4 separate regions of the Homo sapiens genome follow, and all the other regions are reported to be linked to region 4. The links are microRNA targets in miRTarBase. Many come from high-throughput screens and were not tested one by one. Region 4 holds a microRNA gene; each other region holds the end of a gene's coding sequence.

Region 1 (3,243 bases), not on the chromosome of region 4:
TGGGGACTGTCGGGAAGGCATGATTGATTGGTTTTGAAATGTGAGGACATGAGATTTGGGAGGGGCCAGGGATGGAACGATATGTTTTGGCTGTGTCCCCATTCAAATCTCATCTTGAATTCTGACTCCCACAATTCCTACGTGTCATGGGAAGAACAGGGTGGGAGGTGATTGAATTATGGGGGCAGGTCTTTCCTGCTCTGTTCTCTTGATAGTGAATGAGTCTCATGAGATCTGATGAATTTAAAAGGGGGAGTTTCCCTGCACAAGCTCCTCTTCCCTTGTCTGGCATCATGTGAGACATTGCCTTTTACCTTCTGCCATGATTGTGAGGCCTCTCCAGCCACATGGAAATTTAAGTCCAATAAACCTCTTTCTTTTGTAAATTGCCCAGTCTCGGGTAGTCTTTATTAGCAGCGTGAAAACGGACTAATACACTCTGGTTCTAGTGACATTTCTGAGGAAGGAATGAACTGTTCCTTTTCAGTCTGATTCCAGCTTCAGATCACCATTGCACCCTGACCTTATCCATGGTGCTTTTTGGTCTAAGTAAAGCATTTCTCTAATAATACATTCAGGTTAAGCAACTATTACATTTATTGTCCTAATTTAGCATTAAGGTCTTTTCACAAAATACACTGTGATTTTGATACTATATGCCACTCTTCATCGGATCTTTCTGATGGCCAAGAGTTTCCTTAACTCTTGAAAAGCACATAAGTAAGTCTAGAGCTGGAACACATGAACATGAATACCTGAGCACATTTTCCAATATTTCTACCCCGACTGCAATAGCAGGAATTAGCATATGCAAGAATACAGCTACACATTTGCTGAAATCTAGTTAATTGAGAAATAATTTACTAAGATAAAATGGTTTGAGAATGGCAAACTCTCAAGGAATGAAAGACACTGAGAGCTCTGGAACTATTTTTGTGTAAGAAAAATAAAATCCTTTAATAATGTTCAAAATGAGAATTCAAAATGTATATATATAAAATATATGCACCAATTAATCTTTGTGTTAATTAATAGAAGCTTCAAAGTACTATAAAATTTAGTAGAATAGGTAACTTTATTTTAAATAACTTTCTTAACCCTGCCCATTAAGATCACAGTAAACATACAATAATTTTTATTATGGAAATTAATCTTTACATACAAAATCAGCTACGTAATTTTACTTACAAAACAATAAAAACTGTTCTTTACTGTGGCAACAAAAGAAGCATTTTGACAAATGAAAAAAATTAATGCAAACAAATTAAAACAATGCTTTTCTTTTTACTTGCTTCACTGTCTCTTCTATTTATTTTCTATGATCATTTGACACAAACATGGATTACTTTGATATCTACTGAAACATAAATGATAAGGTTCTTAAAGGTTGAATTAAAAGTCTGGGTGTTCAATATTTTAGAAGCTGAATAAACAAAACGAAATTGGGGTTTGTGATTACAGAGGATTTATCATTTTTTCCCTTTGCCCATATGAAAATATATAATAGAAAATTACCCACGGGAAAACATTTTTAAATTTAATGTTGCGTTCCTATCAAGTTTAATAATAATGCCAAGTTGGCAATTTAATTAATTACTTTCACTAAGGATTAATACTTTGTCTAGAATGGAGTAGAGGTAGACTGATCTTTTCGTATTCAAATATTTTAAAATATAAAGTTTAAAATGTCATAAGGAATTATATAAAATAGTATTTTTAAATATTTGAAATTTAATTTATAATTATATTCAAAATAATTAAATCCCTTTTTGATAAATAGTAAGTAAGTTGTTGCTTGAAATTCATTTGGTTGAAATGATTACTCTAAGGAACTCTTTTAGTTATTTTTAACTAATAATCTTTAGAAAAAAATGTCTATTTTTTAATAAGGGTTTCTAGTTTTGGAAAAAAGCTTCTAATGATTTAAATGCACTTACAGATGCTCCTACCACTGGAAAAGGCATCCTATCTGTTTTTCACACTAGTATTTACAAAGTATTATGTGACAGAGCAGCTGTTGAACTAAAAAAATAAAATGTACAAATGCAAACTGGGTCAAAGAAAAATCTTTGTATAAAATGCTTAGTTATTCCAATGTTAAATATGACTTATGCTTACTGGTAATAAATTGCATGTGTTCTCTCTCTTGTTAGTAGCTTGTTTTAGAAGAGAACACAGCAATGCATGGGCCACTCTAGCGTTCTTGTGCACCTGTAAAGGCATCCTTGCAGCCCCAACCAAAATCAATGTTTATTCTGCCAAAAATAAGAGCAAGGGCTTAGTAATAATTTTTCTTTTTTGTAAATTTCTGTATTTTAGTTTTGAAGTGCTTTCTATTTAAAAATAAAAAACATGATTTATTTTCATTTCTGACACAGAAGTGTTTCTTTTAAAAAAAAAAGACCACATTTTAAATTTCTGCTTAAATGTATATAAAGTATACATTTAAGTATACTGGCACTCGCAACAAATGAATCCTTCCCCAGGGATAAATGGATTGGAAAATTTGTTTTTCATTCAACATTTGGAAAGAGAACAAACCTGAAATATGTAATTTTTAAAATTATGTGAAAATAATGTGAAAAATTTCATATAGTATTTGTGTGAAAATCAGGTGGAAAAAAACTTCCATGAAGAACCCAATTTACAAAAATTCACATCTTTTTAAGATTTACATTTAATACAATACTACTGTTTTAACTGAATTGTGTGTGTATGAGGTGGTTTTTGCAGGGAGAGGGGAGTTGTATAGTGACTACTTTTTTGTGACCACTCACCTTCAACCTTGGGGGAAAATGCTTACTATATGACAAATGTAAATTAAGATCATTACTCTTCCGTCACAGATGATTTCCTAGATTTGAGAACAAGGTCTTTAATGGATGAAGAAAGTTCTTGAAGCTCTTTACGAGTAGTACTGGCAACATCTTCTTGTTCTTTGTCTAATTCATTATTCAAGGGATAATCTCCCTGCCCAGTCTTCTTACTTTGACTGACTAGCTGCTTTACAACCAAACCTTGATACTTTACCAAAAGAGCATGCTGATCCTGTGAAAAGGGAAAGAAAAGTTAATCAACACAATTTATCTTTTTGTGGAACAGATAAAGTAGAATTTCTTCAACTAATACACATTGAAGGTCCTCATCTTTACAAAAAACTGGCCATGTAAGTAGCAAGTCTAATCTAGCAGTTTCTGCTCTCAAGGAGTGTACAATTTAGGAGAGATAAAACATGAATGCAAA
Region 2 (3,251 bases), not on the chromosome of region 4:
GTAAAGTAATTGAAGAGAGAAGTAGAAATTTCAGGCAGATTCTTATACAATTTTATTGTCCCTTCTTCTAAAACTCCCATATTCTAGCCTTAAAAGATTGACCCCCGCAAAAAAATGACTTTGTATTTAAAAAGCTCTGGTAGAGAAATGTTAAAGTGTTTTAATTTTGGAGGTATTTTGCATTTCCTTACATTTATGTTTTTAATATGTATTTTGGTCTTTTTCTACAGAAAATGGATATTCCAGCTAAATTGATTGTTTGTGGAATGACATCAAATGGTTTCACCATTGCAGACCCAGATGATAGAGGCATGTTGGATATGTGCGGCTTTGATACTGGAGCTCTGGATGTAATTCGAAATTTCACATTAGATATGATTTAACCATAAGCAGCAGCACGATCCAGAGATCCATTGCCATCAGTGATCTCACTAAAAATATACAGCTACTTCCCAGCTAATCTCCACCCAATGAATGATGATGGTATAGTATGTGCATAATGGAAAGTTACCTTACTGAAAAAAAAAAAAGAAGGAAAAATAAGATGGGCCCAAAGGTCTATCTACTAAACTAGCTCTTGGGGAAATAGCTTCAGGATACTGTAGTTTCCTCTATCTAATAGAGAACTTTTTGTTAACAGACACTGTAAAATAGTTTTGCTTTGTTGAATAATACGTGTGTACCTAAAAGAGGTAAGAGCAAAAAGTGTAATTCCACATCATGTTACTTGAGAAGTGCTTAACGTTTTCTTAAATGTTTTCATTGGGAAAGGACAGCTTTGATAATGTCCAAATACTCTGAAATGCACTAGACCATATAACTGTGATGAAATATGAAACTCATCTGTAAACTTTTATACCAAGGGGGTAAAAAAAAAAACTAAGGCATTTGATTAAATTATGAATGAGTTTTACAAATTCCTTTCAGAGTTTTACTAAGATCACACAAATAACAGCTTTCTTATTCAGTGAAAAAGATATTTTATTTCTGATGTTTTATTTGCACTTGTGGAATATGTTACCATTAATCAGAAACATCATGGCAACCCCTAAGAATAGACTAAGTTTGTGTTGGCTGAGGGATTCTATTTGGTTTGCTTTTTTTTTTTTGCTTTGTTATATTTTATTGCTACAAGGGGTGTGACTTGATAATGATTTCCTCTGAATTATAATAACATAGCCAGATGTAGTCTCACACTGTTTTTCATACTCTTAAGTGTAAATAATATAAAATGTTTCAAGCGCTTAACTCCCCCTCATTCACAAAGTATAACAATTAAAATCTCAACTATAACCAGTTTAGCTTTTTCCTTACTTTTAAAATAAAATTTTTTACTTTTAACTATTTTTTTAGTTAATATTTTTAAAAGTATACATGTCAATGGCCTCTTTGTCCATTATTCATTTTGTGGCAAAATATTCTTCTTTGATAGTGTAAACAAATAATAAAGCAATCTAGGTCCTTTAGGTTTGAAAGGCAATTTTTGAGTAGCATATTACCAGCTAGCCAGTCACTAGGAATTTTTTTCAGTATTATTTGTATGTATTAAACTTTTCATTACACTAAAGTGCATTATTTTATTGAGCAAGTATCCTTCATTGTGAGGTTTAACATTAAAGCAATCTGTTGAAATGCCATTATCTTTGCTCATAATTTTATTATGGCCGTCTAAGGTAGCTTACACATAAAACCTGTTTGCGTATCTGTTGTTCTCTAAATATTAATTGAAGATTTACTGAGGATTTGTAAGGTCCTTCTCGCTGTTATGTGAAAAGTCAAACTGTAGTTAATGTAAATTATAGCCTTTTAGGTGCTTGGGGGTTAGAGGGTTTATGTTTTTTGGGAAAGGGGGACTTTAGTAGTCTGAGGATTTCTGTACATATTTTCTTCTGTTTTATGTGAAATTTGGGCTCTGGGAATAAGAAAATATTCCTTTCAAATTTATTTGACATATTAATGCTGGTTTTGATATGTACCCATTCCTTCAAGGCAACTGGTATCAGTTTTTAAGTGTGATTTACCTGAGATATTTTTGTTCAGCAAAGCTCATAGCACCCTCACCCCCACTCCAGACATGCATTGCTTCTGATGTTGTTCACGTTTTTAACCCTGTCAAGCATTGAACTGAATATATTAGCTACTTTTGACACATTAAAATATTACGTTCAGATTGAATTTAAAGTTTAAAGAAACTAATAGAATTACGTAATAGTTATTGAATTGTTTAAGTAAACCCAAGATCTTAAAAATTATAACATGATCATTTTATTCCTAATAGAAATGTTAAATAGAATATAGTACAAAAGTGCATTACCTTCAGTTGTGTACTATTTCCATAATACTTTTAGACAAATATATCTATAAGTTAATATTAAATCCATCAAGGATACAAGATTGGATGGATATGACCTTTCTGAAGTATTTAGGTAGGTCTAATTAAATGGACTAGGGTAACATTTAAGAAAGAAAGGATAAGTAGGAGAAGCTACCACAGAAGGTAACTTTTCAAATCATGGCATATTTGAGCTGGAAGAAACCTTAGAAACCTAAAAGCTAATTTTTTAAATTTTTGTTAGAGAGCTGAGGTCCAAGACAGAGTGTGATTTTGAAGTACTATAACCTAGAAATCTTGGTCTCTTCATTCCTGTGCCAGAATTTATTTCCCCACAACATGGGAATACATGGTCTCAGAAGAGTAGAGGATAAAATAAAATTATTTAAGACTTTTACCTTATTGAGTTATTAGGAAATAATGTATATACGATTGCTTTAGGAGTAGAAAAATAGAATGGGAACATGTATAATCTTGTAATTCATAGGAATCCTCAAGCACAATTAACCTGTGTTGCTATATATATCTACATATATAGAGAAAAAACAAAAACTTTACCTCATTATGAATAAAATGTACTGAAGTGATAAGTTTTTTATTTCCTGAGTTACTTTTAGGATTACTGTTAAATTAATATTTGGGAAAATACTGCTTTTAAAAACAATCCTGCAAGAATAAACAAACTTTATTTCCTAGGTAGTATGTAAATAGTTCCAGGATATAGTTGTAATTAGTAAAACAAAAACTAATCTTATAATCCCACCCTTTATTAGTTGAAAGTTCTTGGAAATTCCATTTATTAATACTTATATTATTTAGTAATCTATCTTATGAGAGTGTTAGTGAGGCAAGATGCTAGTGAATGGAATTTAGTGTTACCCTTTGACACCTCCTTTGCTTTATCTAACTTACTGTGTGA
Region 3 (3,251 bases), not on the chromosome of region 4:
ATGTTAGTTAATGAATAAATGCTTCTTGCTGTTTATTTTTAAAAGCTATTGAGATAAACCTATATTTTATTATTTTAATGGAAATAGTAAGGTTTTTGTGGTGTGTGAGTTCTTTTTCCCACGACAATTTGAGTCTGTGGCCCCTGGTAAAAAAATATCCCTGCTAGTTTGTTTTCAGTGGTAAAGCCTTGAGGCATTTTGAGAGCATCAGCACAATCCATGTGAGCTCCCAGTTGGAATTTTCATTCTTTTTAAGGAAAGTGGTCATCTCATGTATATTGACAAATACCCTTTAAAAATTCTTTGGCAGCTTAAGACTGGGTATGCAAGAGGACTTAGAGGAAATGAGACGTGAAGAAGAAGAAATGCAACGTCGAAGGGCCAAGAAGCTGAAGAGGCGTTAGCTGCTGCTTTTATTTTTGTGAAATTCTAGAGCTGCTCTGCTGCAAGGATTTCCTGCCTTCAGACTGAAGAAGCCCCCTTATCATTTTAGATTTATACTTGGGTACTCAAGGAGAAGGAATGCATACTGTCATTTGCAGGCTGTCATTTGAGCATAAAATATTTTCAGATATTTTCCAGGGTGAAATCTGTAATGCAGATGATATAATGCCCACTTGTGCTCTTATGAAGTTAACTGTTCACAGATGCCAGCCTTGATCCTGATGAGCTATGCACTCTAATGTGGGGCCACTCACCAGTCAGCCAATCTTTTATTGTTCCTTTGCTACTTTGAAAGGAAAAAAAAGGTTGTCTCTTGATTTCTGTAATTCTTCTGCTGATCTGTGAGTAGGGCACTGCCCTGCTCCCAATCAAACTTAGTCTTTTTATGAGAAACCTGGACCTTCCATGAATGTTGCCAGCAATAAAGTGACTTGTCCTAATCTATGGATTGAGAACTTGAAAATGTAGAGTAGAATTTATAACTATCATATGGATGTCATCCTGTGACTTTGAAGTACAAAGTAGAATAAATTCTGTATTCATGGATTGGATGCTGAGCATTCTTACTCATTAATTTAGGTGGCTAGGAATTAATGAAAAAATTTTCAAGTTAAAATACAGGTTATAACAGTATAATATTCTTTTCTAAGTTTTCCTTTCAGATTTACTGTTATGTTGGCTTTAGTGTAAGACAAGGTCACTGTGCTGATTGATTTTTATCTAAAAAAATTCATTTTTATATCGAAGAAAAAATATTTTATTCAAACATTAGATTTGAAAGAGTAATAGTTTATAAAATAAGGAAGTAACATGTGAGGCTCTCCCCTCCTCCCCTCCCCCATCATAAAGATATTTTGAAATCCCAAGGTGCCCTCATACCTCTTGACATTAATGACTTCATTTTTTAGCTTGAATTTGTTAGCAAATATTAATGGCAGAAAACCAAAAACTAAATTTATGGTATCGAGAGCACCACCTTCTCTTTTTGCCCATATTGCACTTTGATTTCAAACTATGCACTGTGAAGAGATTTTTTTCCCCAGGTAGGAAGGGATGTTCCCTGTTATCGTTATTTTACTGAGCTGTGGAAACTCATTTTTACCCTTTTTAAAGTCATAAATATGGACTTAATAGCCCTTAACCTTCAAGTCCAAGCAGTTCCAATCAGGCTGACTTAGGATCATGCTGGAAGGAAGCCAAGTCTCAAGAACTGTCAGCAACAGAAAATGAGATATGATGCTAGAGAGCATTTGTCCTTGACTGTAAGTACAGAGGCTTAGGGGAAGTGAGACATAAGCTTGTAGGAATAATAAACGTTCTACAATAAACGTTTTGGCTATCTTAAGCCATTGTATGGGGGGGATTAGGAAGTAGGAGGGATTGTCCTACAACAGGCCCTTATACTTCAACAGCCCAAATATTTTGGTTTATTCCTTTTTATCCATAAAGTCTTTATTCTTCAAGTTTGGGTATTATAGATTACCATTGTTAGCCTCCCTTAATGGGACCATATGAGCCAGGCTTTTAAGACGGACTCATTTTGAATTGAGTTTCAAACTTTGAAAGTGCAAGGATTTAATTTTTAAGTTGAATCCCATGAAAGGTGTCATCATCACTAGGAATAACACCCTTTGTAACTACATATAGAACTGTTACAATGGTAGCAGAAAATCCTATTGATTTCATCTCACCCATTTCAGATACCTTCAGTGAAATTAAGGGTAGTGTGATGTCCCATGTAATAAAACAGGCTTAGAACATCAATTCCTCTGCTGCCATTTATGTGCTTTTATTCCCCCTTCAAAAATTTTTTATTGGATATATATATTTTTCAGTATTCAGACTCTGAAATCTGTCATTACAATCAAGTGCTTGTCACAGCTGAAAGATTTCTGGTGGCTTAAAGTTTACTAGCAGTAAATTTATGATATGGTACAGTTCTTTGTACAGAAAGGCACCATTATGTTAGAATAAATTTCCAGAACTTAGTGGGAAGAATCAGGTTTTAACCTTGTGTGTCTGTTACTTCTGAGTGCATTTCTATAATATAAATGTTGATTTGCGTCAACATTATAAAAGAGCACTTCTGTGGCTCATTTAAAAGAAAAAAAAGGTTAAGTCTTTTAAATTTTGGCCTTGTTTCCAAATCCTGTCTTCCATGTTGTTTTTCTGCACTTCCTGACCACTCTTATAAAAAGCTCACAAACCTTTGAAGAAACTGGAGTAGGCTGTTATTTCATTAAGGTTTACAAATTAAATGCTTGATTTTTAATGTATTCTCTACTGTTTTGATTTTTGGATTTTCTTAATTCAACATTTGAAGATGTGCCTTTTGGGTAATGTTAATCACGAATGTAGTAATATTTCATGATTGTAATAATGTTACATGATCATGGGTGTGGCATTCTCTAACAAATGATGTGAAAGGAAAGTAGTTTTCATAAAACTCATGGCTCTGATTGCACAGTCCCACTTGCTTTTGATATTGCTATGTCAAAGCAAAGGGCACTTCTTTTAAGGCTACTTTCAGAACTTTGTATTTTCGCTAAACTATAAATGCAGTTGTGTCCAGTTGGAGGCCAGGGTACCACATGTCACAGGCGGCCTTACATGTGTGCCGTGAAAAGGTTCAAAGACCGTTAACAAAAAAGTAAGTCTGGCCGGGCATGGTGGCTCAAGCCTGTAATCCCAGCACTTTGGGAGGCCGAGGCGGGCGGATCACTTGAGACCAGGAGTTCGAGACCAGCCTGGCCAACATGGTGTGAGACCCCGTCTCTACTAAAAATAAAAAAATTAGCCGGGTGCGG
Region 4 (3,000 bases):
CAGTTACAGTTGACCCTTGAACAACATGGAGGTCAGGGGCCCCTCACGCAGTCAAAAATTTGCCTGCCTTTTTTTTTTTTTTGAGATAGGGCCTTGCTCTGTTGCCCAGGCTGGAGTACGATGACATGAACATGGCTCACTGCAACCTCCCGGGCTCCAGTGATCCTCCCACCGCAGCCTCCCAAGTAACTGGGACTACAGGCATGTGCCACCATGCCTGGCTAGCTTTTGTATTTTTCTAGAGAACGTTTCACCATGTTGGCCGGGCTAGTCTGAAACTCCTGGCCTCAAGTGATCTGCCTTCCTTGGCCTCCCAAAGTGCTGGGACTCCAGGCTGCTTATAACTTTTGACTCCCTAAAAACTTCTAAAAGCCTACTAATGACCAGAAGCCTTACTGATAACATAAACAGTTATTTTTATGTTAACACATTTTTGGTATGTCATGTATCTCATATATACTGTATTCTTAGAATAAAGTAAGCTAGAGAAGAGAAAATATTATTGAGAAAATATGAAAATCAAAATATTTACTATTCATTAAGTGGAAGTGGGTCATCATATAAAGGTCTTCATCCTCATCATCTTCAAGTTGAGTAGGCTGAGGAAGAAGAGGAGGGGTTGGTCTTACTCTCTCAGGGGTGGCAGAGGGAGAAGAAACTCAGCAGCATAGATGTAAGTGTATTCATATACTTCAAACCCCTGTTGTTCAAGGGTCAAATGTAAAGTAAAATTAAATATCCATTAGTTTTTCTAAGGATTTCATGACTTTTTGTTGGTCAGCACTAAGTTACATACTTTTTACATAATTTTTATTAATGTATTTTGAATCTTTTCTCTGATTTACCTTAATTATATTGATTTTACTCTCTAGTGGGAAACTTGCAACTAAAAGCCTCCGTGATTAAAGAATAAGTGTAATTGTATGATTAAAAATACATGTAGATTGTTTTGGGGCTGCTGTTTTTTAAATGTCTTATTTATATTAATAGAAAAAAGTAAATCCAGATTTGCAAGTAGAAGTAAAGCCTAGTATTCGAGCAAGAAAGATTCAAGAAGAGAAAATGAGGAAGCAAATGCAGAAGGAGGAGTACTGGCGAAGACGAGAAGAAGAGGAGCGTTGGAGAATGGAAATGAGGTAATATCTTTAACTTTTAATAGCCTGGTAAGTGGTTCAGCCTTTCTTAAAAACTTAGCCATTCTGAGCATGTGACTCCCATTCAAAGCAATCCAGATTTATTTACTTCCAATTTTCACTCTTGAGGAAGATCCTAGGTCTAGGAAAGACATGCATTAAAATTGTTACTGGCTATACTAATATTTTACTGTGGCCTTGGTATTAGAGTTATATGTTTAAGTGGCATCTTTTATAAATTAAACATATGAAGAAATAGTTTCATATTATAAATAAGTGCCTCGGTTTCAAACAAGCAAAATAGACATACATTTCCTGATAGAAGTATAAGATTTGATAGATTCTACATGTTAATAATGTCCATAAAGAAACTTTAGTGGCTACAGGGAAGGAGAATTGAGAAAACATATTTCAAATATTTGTTTATATATATATAAAGATACAAATGTTAAGTTTTATTGAAATATAACATATCTTCTAAACTTATACAGTGACAGAGTTGTGTAACAATCACCACAATCAATTTAGAACAGTTCATCACCCTCAAAAGAAATCACGTACCCATTAACAATAATTCCCCATGTGTCCCACATACCTAGTATCTCCCCCAGCCCCAGCCCTGGACAACCTCTAACCTTTCTGTCTCTATAGATTTGCCTATTCTAGAGATTTCATATAAATGGAGTCATATTAGGTTAATGCAAAAGTAATCGCGGTTTGTGCCAGATGACGATTTGAATTAATAAATTCATTTGGTATAAACCGCGATTATTTTTGCATCAACTTACTACAGTCTATGGTCTTTTGTGTCTGGCATCGTTCACTTAGCGTGTTTTCATGGTTCATCCAGATTGTAACATGTTTCAGTATTCCATTGTCTTTTATGACTAAATAATACTGAATAATACATCCTTATGTACCACATTTTGTTTATTCGTTCATTAGTTGATGGACATGCAACTTGTTTCCACATTTTGACTATTATGAGTATTGCTGCTGTGAATATTTTTGTATAACTTTTAAAATACAGTTTTAGCAGAAACATACCATACACGTATTTTCATAATCCACTTTTTTCATTTACATACCTTCAACTTTAAAAACTAAATTCGGATTATTTTGTTTTTCATGAGGACATAGTAATTTTTGTGCATATGTAAAATTTTCTTCATAACCAATCCTTGTTGTTATTGTTTAGATATTTAGGTAGTTTCCAGTGTTTCCTTATTATAGTTATTAATATCTTGACCCTCCTTGAGGCACTTTTTTGTTTCTTTCACCAAGTATGTGAACCTATTGAGGCGATATTACTGCATACATTATCGTTAGTTGCTAATAATAGAATATGGGAAATGGAAATGTTTGAAGGATGCTCACATGTCTGCCTATACTGGATAGCATAACTCAGTGGTTCTCAAACTTTTTGGTCTCAGGATCCTTTATCCTCAATTATCAAGGACTCCAAAGAGTCCTTATGTGGGTTATACCTGTCAAGACTTACTGTATTAAAAATTAAAACTGGCCGGGCACAGTTGCTCATACCTGTAATCCCAACACTTTGGGAGGCTGAGGTGGGTGGATCACCTGAGGTCGGGATTCAAGACCAGCCTGACCAACATGGAGAAATTCCCATCTCTACTAAAAATACAAAATTAGCCGGCGTGGTGGCGCATGCCTGTAATTCCGGCTACTCAGGAGGCTGAGGCAGGAGAATTGCTTGAACCCGGGAAGAGGAGGTTGCGGTGAGGCGAGATCGCGCCATTATACTCCAGCCTGGGCAACAAGAACAAAACTCCGTCTCAAAAAAAAAAAAAAATTTAAAACTAAGAAATTTAAATATTTGTTAATTCATTTTAAAATGACATTT

The links. Region 4 holds the annotated microRNA hsa-miR-579-3p (UUCAUUUGGUAUAAACCGCGAUU, at 1,881-1,903, shown strand). A microRNA usually pairs through its seed, bases 2 to 8, with sites in the 3' UTR of a target mRNA and lowers its output. Matches are read on the target gene's strand: a 7mer-m8 pairs with bases 2 to 8, a 7mer-A1 pairs with bases 2 to 7 and ends in A, and an 8mer does both.
Region 1: the mRNA of UFL1 is a reported target of hsa-miR-579-3p. Seed matches in the 3' UTR shown: 7mer-A1 at 2,363-2,369, 8mer at 1,802-1,809 and 7mer-m8 at 1,323-1,329.
Region 2: miRTarBase lists RO60 as a target of hsa-miR-579-3p. The part of its 3' UTR that is shown has no 7-base or 8-base seed match.
Region 3: miRTarBase lists SPTY2D1 as a target of hsa-miR-579-3p. Seed matches in the 3' UTR shown: 7mer-m8 at 2,857-2,863.

What each region holds. Positions count from the first base shown.
Region 1 is chr6:96,553,090-96,556,332 of GRCh38, reverse strand. UFL1 (UFM1 specific ligase 1) reads right to left here. Exons shown (of 19, transcript NM_015323.5): 19 at 1,057-3,048. The coding sequence ends at 2,830. Among named protein-coding and RNA genes, the nearest start is that of FHL5, 8.4 kb to the left of the region's middle.
Region 2 is chr1:193,084,349-193,087,599 of GRCh38, forward strand. RO60 (Ro60, Y RNA binding protein) reads left to right here. Exons shown (of 9, transcript NM_001173524.2): 9 at 231-3,251. The coding sequence ends at 383. Among named protein-coding and RNA genes, the nearest start is that of GLRX2, 19 kb to the right of the region's middle.
Region 3 is chr11:18,607,014-18,610,264 of GRCh38, reverse strand. It overlaps SPTY2D1 (SPT2 chromatin protein domain containing 1), which reads left to right. Exons shown (of 6, transcript NM_194285.3): 6 at 311-3,251. The coding sequence ends at 404. It also overlaps a transcript of MISFA not described here. Among named protein-coding and RNA genes, the nearest start is that of MISFA, 8.8 kb to the right of the region's middle. RefSeq lists a silencer at 1,529-1,823.
Region 4 is chr5:32,393,295-32,396,294 of GRCh38, reverse strand. MIR579 (microRNA 579) reads left to right here and starts at 1,820; the gene lies at 1,820-1,917. ZFR (zinc finger RNA binding protein) reads left to right here. Exons shown (of 20, transcript NM_016107.5): 11 at 991-1,136.